Linked DNA regions of Homo sapiens: region 1 is reported to be linked to region 2. The links are microRNA targets in miRTarBase. Many come from high-throughput screens and were not tested one by one. Region 2 holds a microRNA gene; the other region holds the end of a gene's coding sequence.
Evidence for each region. The annotated mature microRNA hsa-miR-1200 reads CUCCUGAGCCAUUCUGAGCCUC and lies in region 2 at 1,625-1,646, shown strand. An mRNA with a match to its seed (bases 2 to 7 or 8) in the 3' UTR can be bound and repressed. Matches are read on the target gene's strand: a 7mer-m8 pairs with bases 2 to 8, a 7mer-A1 pairs with bases 2 to 7 and ends in A, and an 8mer does both.

Region 1: the mRNA of PSMC1 is a reported target of hsa-miR-1200. Seed matches in the 3' UTR shown: 7mer-A1 at 2,442-2,448 and 7mer-m8 at 1,418-1,424.

What each region holds. Positions count from the first base shown.
Region 1 is chr14:90,271,872-90,274,871 of GRCh38, reverse strand. PSMC1 (proteasome 26S subunit, ATPase 1) reads right to left here. Exons shown (of 11, transcript NM_002802.3): 11 at 1-2,599. The coding sequence ends at 2,465. It overlaps NRDE2 (NRDE-2, necessary for RNA interference, domain containing), which reads left to right. Exons shown (of 14, transcript NM_017970.4): 14 at 1-3,000. Among named protein-coding and RNA genes, the nearest start is that of PSMC1, 17 kb to the right of the region's middle.
Region 2 is chr7:36,917,818-36,921,048 of GRCh38, reverse strand. It overlaps MIR1200 (microRNA 1200), which reads left to right and starts at 1,617; the gene lies at 1,617-1,692. The region is part of intron 16 of ELMO1 (engulfment and cell motility 1); the gene reads left to right.

The DNA of each region.
Region 1 (3,000 bases), not on the chromosome of region 2:
GCAAACTTTCAGATCAATTCATATGTATTGGGGTGTGTGTGTGTGTGTGTGTGTGTGTGTGTGTGTGTGTGTGTGTGTGTGTGTAGTTCCCTATTTAAAGGGCTATACTGTATTCCATTAATAGTAACTGTTTGTTAGGATGCTCAGATTGTCCCGAGTTTGGCCAGTGGAAGCCCCTTCACATAGGCTTCGGTGTCCTTAGGACATGTCCTTATCATTCCTTGAGCACTCCCTTGCTTTCTGGCAAAACAGACTTTGGGTTCATCCTGTCCTTTCCCTGCCTAGCCCCGGAATCAGCCCTCACTCCTTTTAGTGGAGAATAATACTTTTAGCAGCAAAGGTCTGGGTCTAGGGGTGCTCACTGCAGTTGGGGTGTCACTGTTCCCAGGTGCTCCCAGTGGACAGAGGTCGTTCTTGTTTTCTTCTTTCTGTGTCTAACTCCTCAGAGAAACCTGGCTCCCACTGTCCTGTTTACCTGCCTGACTGCCTCCATACATAAGCAGCCTCCCTCCCCTGCCACCACCCCGTCCCTGCAGATGCCTTCCTCACCCACTTGGGCTCTCATACTGCACATCAGGCTGCCCACACTGACTCCCCCTATCGGACCACCCCAGCCCTGCACATACACCCCACACGGATGCCAGCCTCACCCTGCCCATGCTGAGTCCCCGTGCTGTGGTGTTCCTCCACATGGACAGCTCCACACCCTACTTGGGCTGACACCCGCCCTCCCCACAAGCACCCCGTCCTTACCCTGCACTGGGCCACCCCCACGTGTGGATGTCCTCTGTGGTAGGCAGAGTGGCGCCCCTAAAGATGGCCACACCCTAAGCCCTGGAACGTGTGAATGTTACATGGCAAAAGGAACTTTGCAGATAAAAATTAAGAAGATTGTAAACTTTAAAACAGGGAAATTATCCTGGATCATCTGCATGGGTCCAATGCAATCACAAGGATCCATAAGAATAGAAAAGGCAGGCAGAAAGAAGGGTCGGTGGGAGAGAGGGACTGGGCCTGCTGCTGCTGGTGGAAAATGAAGTGCCACGAGTCAGGAGGGAGGGTGGCCTTCACAGACTGGCAAAGGCCTCAGCTGGCAGCCAGCAAGGAAATGCTGACCTCAGCTGGCCCACAACTCCAAGAAATTAAATTCTGCCAACAATAATCCTCAGCAAGGAAACGGATTCTCCCTTAGAGACGCCAGAGGGAACGGTCCTGCCAACAGCAAGACTTTAGCCTGGAGACACTCGTGTTGGACTTCTGACCTACAGAACTGAGATAAAATTGTGGTTTTTATTTATTTATTTATTTATTTTTGAGACGGAGTCTTGCTCTGTCGCCCAGGCTGGAGTGCAGTGACGGGATCTTGGCTCACTGCAACCTCCGCCTCCTGGGTTCAAGCGATTGTCCTGCCTCAGCCTCCTGAGTAGCTGGGACTACAGGCACCTGCCACCACGCACAGCTAATTTTTGTATTTTTAGTAAAGATGGGGTTTCACCATGTTGGCCAGGCTGGCCTCAAACTTCTGACCTTGTGATCCGCCTGCCTCAGCTTCCCAAAGTGCTGGGATTACAGGCGTGAGCCACCGTGCCTGGCCAAATTGTGCTGTTTTTAAACAAAGCCTGTGGTAACTTGTTATAGTATTAACAGAAAACTAATACACACTCCTCATTCAGTGTGGGCCCTACAACCCACACCAGGCCACCTGTCAAGGGAACGCTTACCTTGATCTGTCCCACTTAATAGCTTTAGGCCTGATTTGTTCAGAAAGAGAAATGACGGAAATAGACGGAGAAAGGGAAGGGGAAGTTCTGACATGTTTCTGAACACCTTGAAAGGGATGAGATTTCTGAGCCCAAGGGCTCAGAAGGGCTTTCAAGATATCTCTAGGAATCCTCAGTCTCTTGGGAACACCAGTAGTTATTTTCTGCCCTCAGAGTGCTAAGAACATGCATGGTCCACAAAACTTCCAAAAAGGAAAGCTGTACTTCCTTTGGAAGCAATAGCCACATTAACGCAGCCTTTATTATTTAAACAACGAATATCCCTGGCTCTGTGGTAGTGACCATTTCCCACTGTAATTACCGTTGAACGCCAGCTCTGGGGGTGTGATGTGGCGAACGCATAGTGAGGTCCACACTCCTTGGGACCGCAGCCTGAGTTCCTGTCCAAAGGCTTCCCTGTAGCTGGGTCCACCCACAGGCTGCTGTTGAGCGGTAGGTGTGTGTGGAGACTGCAGAAACAGGAAGTGTTTGTGAAAGAGCACGCTTTATTGGGAAGCAGACTGCTGCACAGTGACCAACAGGCCACCCAATGGGCACTTACACATCGTACTCCAAAAGACACAGGATGTTTTGCTAATAAAAATCAGTGGGAACAGGGATTCCTCTGGGCAACTCCCCCAACCTCATCCCTTTCAGGGATTGAGAAATCTCCCAACCATTTTCCTGATGACAGCCATGGTTCATTAGAGATACAGCCCCTCAGGGGTGCCTTCCTGTTTCTTATAAAGAACATTTTCTTTAGATTTTTTGAAGTCTTCATTTGTTACTTTCATTCTACGTTCTCTTAAGGCCATCAGACCAGCTTCTGTACAGATTGCCTGTAAGAAAGAAGAGTGTGTTCAGAAAGTGACATACTCATTTTTATTCTAACAAGGAATTCCAAAAAACCTATTCTGAGGCCAGGCGCGGTGGCTCACACCTGTAATCCCAGCACTCTGGGAGGCCGAGGCAGGTGGATCGCCTAAGGTCAGGAGTTCAAGACCAGCCTGGCCAACACGGTGAAACCCCATCTCTACTAAAAATACAAAAAGTTAGCCAGGGACGGTGGCAGGCACCTGTAATCCTAGCTACTCGGGAGGCTGAGGCAGGAGAATTGCTTGAACCCGGGAGGCAGAGGTTACAGTGAGCCGAGATCGCGCCACTGCACTCTAGCCTGAGCAACGAGCGAAACTCTACCTCAAAAAAAAAAAAAAAAAAATCTGTTCTGAAATAAAGCATG
Region 2 (3,231 bases):
AATAAGCTCCCTTGGACCTCTTTTATAACTTCAGTAACCCTATTCATTACAGCAGAATCTTCATGACCTAATCCTCTCCCTTCAAAGGCTCCACCTCTTAATATTTTATTGCACTGGGGACTATATTTCAGCATATGAATTTGGTGGGGAGACACAAACATTCAGACCATAGATGAAGACCTTGACACTGCTCATGGAGACCTATAAAAAGGATTTGGGGTTCATAGAGAAGAGAGTGACTTGTGGGAGAGTTAAGAAGGACTTTTCAAGCAAGACGGCATTTCAGGAGACACAAGGTGGTCAGTCTAACAGTAGAAAATGAAATCAGCAGTAGAAAACAACATGGAAAATTCTGTTCTTAAATTACCATGTTGGAGAGGGATTTAATATGGCTATGTTTTATGCCAGATTTTTTTAAAAGCCTTTCATGCATAAAACTATAGTGATCTATTTAGATTCATTAAAATATGTGCACATATATATGCATGAATTTCATTATGTGGATATGTAAATTAATGTATTGGGTGAGAGATTATGTTTTAGAATATAAACCAAAAACCATGTTGTGATTAACTTTAAAGAACCATCTAGTTTTGGACATTGTGGCAGTTGTTTTTAATATCCACAAATCAGCTGAATTAGGAAACATAAACTATATGTTTGGACTTCATATTTAGAGCTATATGAGGTCAGCCTCTTCCTCCAGAGGCACTGCCAGATGATAGTTGCTTGCATGGGGCAACAGTCCAATGAAACAATTAATCCAAATCTCATTCAGAGATGAGAAGCAACTTATTTCATTCACTCATTCATTCATTTTCACATACTCATTGACTTCTATTCAGCAAATATTTTTCAGGTAGTTCATAAGCCCTGTAGTTGACTGTGTGGTGGCCTGGCCAAGGGGCATATTAGCCAGAGTAGAAGAGGCAAGAGCTGGGTCTTAGTGGCCAGGCTGAAGGGATAAAGTGTGAGGTTGGCCCTTGCAGAAGAAAGTGATTGGACATCATTCCAGAGTAGAGTGCCCAAAGGAAAGAACCAAAGCATCCCTGATCCAGGCCACTGTTGATGTCAAAAGGGGTGGGGCTTTTGGCATCTCATAGGGCGTTCCCAGTCGTGACACATTATAGTTCTGAATGGTTCACATAATTAAGGCATTGATTCGTTCCTTAAATGAATCAGAGGAAGGGAGATGGAAATGATTAGACAGGTTGTTTTATTTGCAGTCACATTAGCAATAGGGTTCAGGAAGGGCTCCCATTCTGATGGGAGCTTTGGATTGCAGAAACTCTTCCCCGTGAGCCCAGCATCGATCACAGAGCTTGGAAATACAAACTAGAGTTTCATGAGCAATGGGGAATCAGAGCTTCTTTTAGGATACTTGATACTGAGTGTGCAGCAACACACTTTGATTGGCAGCAGCCTCCCTTCCACAGTTGCCAGGCCTACTCTGTTCTAGGCACTGAGTGTACATTATCTAATTATCATAGCAACCCAGCAAGGTTGATGCCATTATCCCATTTTACAGATGAAGAGACTTAGCCCATAAGTGAGAGAACCAGGTTTCAAATCCAGAGTTCTGTGACCCCAAAGCCCACATTCTTCCTAGTTTACTATGCTACTTCTCCTGAGCCATTCTGAGCCTCAATCACTTGCCAGAGAGATTGGTTCAGGAATTTGTCAGGGATAGCCTGAAGTCCCAAAGTCTTCAGCCAGCATCTGAGCAGTGTTAGAAAAGGCTGAGACTCACACGATGCTATATGCTGTGGGAAATGTAATAGACATGAACGATTATCCTAGTCACTATTAACCAAATGCTGGATAACATGGAGCACATAGTGACATTCAACAGAGTTACATTCTCTGCCTTCTAGGATCTTGCAACCCAAGGTGCATATTTACTTGCTTGAATATTGAGCTGTGAGAAGAAAAGTTGCTACGTTTGTGCAAGTTCTATTTATTATGGATGCTAAATTCCTATAAGTTAGCTGAACCATCCCTAGAATAAAGTACTTTATTTTAGCCCAAGTGCCAACTGACTGACTGACTGACTGAATGAATGAATGAATGAATGAAGGCATGCTTGCTTGCTCTTATAGATTAACTCTCTTGCTATGGGTAAACCAAAAGAAAAAAAATATTTTTCCTTACCCCTTAAAGTGAGTCTACTTTGTTTTGTGGGAGGTAGCAATTTATAGACCTGTCTACACATTATTTTCTAAAACTCAAGTATTTTGGAAGAGCAGATGGGGTACCATACTGTATACACTAATCATATATTTTGAAATGTATTTCTTTTTGAGCAGTTTGGTGACGCTTTATTTAGCAAAAGCCCTTGAAAGTTTCAAAAGCAACAATCCAAAGAACATGAGTGGCTGAGAGCACAGCGGACAGACAGACCCTCCAGCACAAGGCTAATGCTTTTCAAAATGTACTGTGGACCCTGGCCCTGGCCCCTATTCCTCCTGCCCTTAGAGATGATGATACACATTGTCACTGGGGGAGGGAACGAGTGGATTGGGCCTGATTATCTGAATTTTCTGTGAATCCCCTGGGTGACTGTGATATGCACCCAGGGTGGAGAACTAGCCTTCTACACTCATATCTGAGTGCTACTCTTCTTACCTCATTCTCTTGAGACTCATATTTTCACTTATAAAATTATTAGAGAAGCAAAAGAAAACCCCATCCCTTTTACATTTTCTGAGAGCCACAGGGGGAGCAAATAGGTGTTGAGCACCTCCTACATTGCCAGAAGTTTGACTTATAGATCTGGTTTAATCTGTACAAGAACTCAACAATGTTTAAAGAATTAATTGGCCCTCAGATATGGAGTTGAGTTATGCATACTGCTCAGTTCATAGCTTATTGTCACCCTAAGGCCATGCAAGACCCTCCTCTTATTTTGTTATTGTTCCTCTTCACCCCCCATTCCCTACACCCATTTCCTTCCCTCCTCAGAGAACCACCTAATATGCTAGAACTAAAATGAATGTCTTTACAAAATTATATATTATTTTTGTGTGTGTTTGTTTTAATTTACATAAATGATAAATCTCTGTAATATAGACTATATAGAAAGTAAGAATGCTTATTTTTTCACTCAGTATTATGTTTTCAGATATATCTATGTTGTATAAACTTCCCACATTTGCATAATATTTCATTGTCTGCATTTATTCCATTTTGTTTATATCTTCCCCAGTTGATAGACACTCAGCTCCCTGCTAC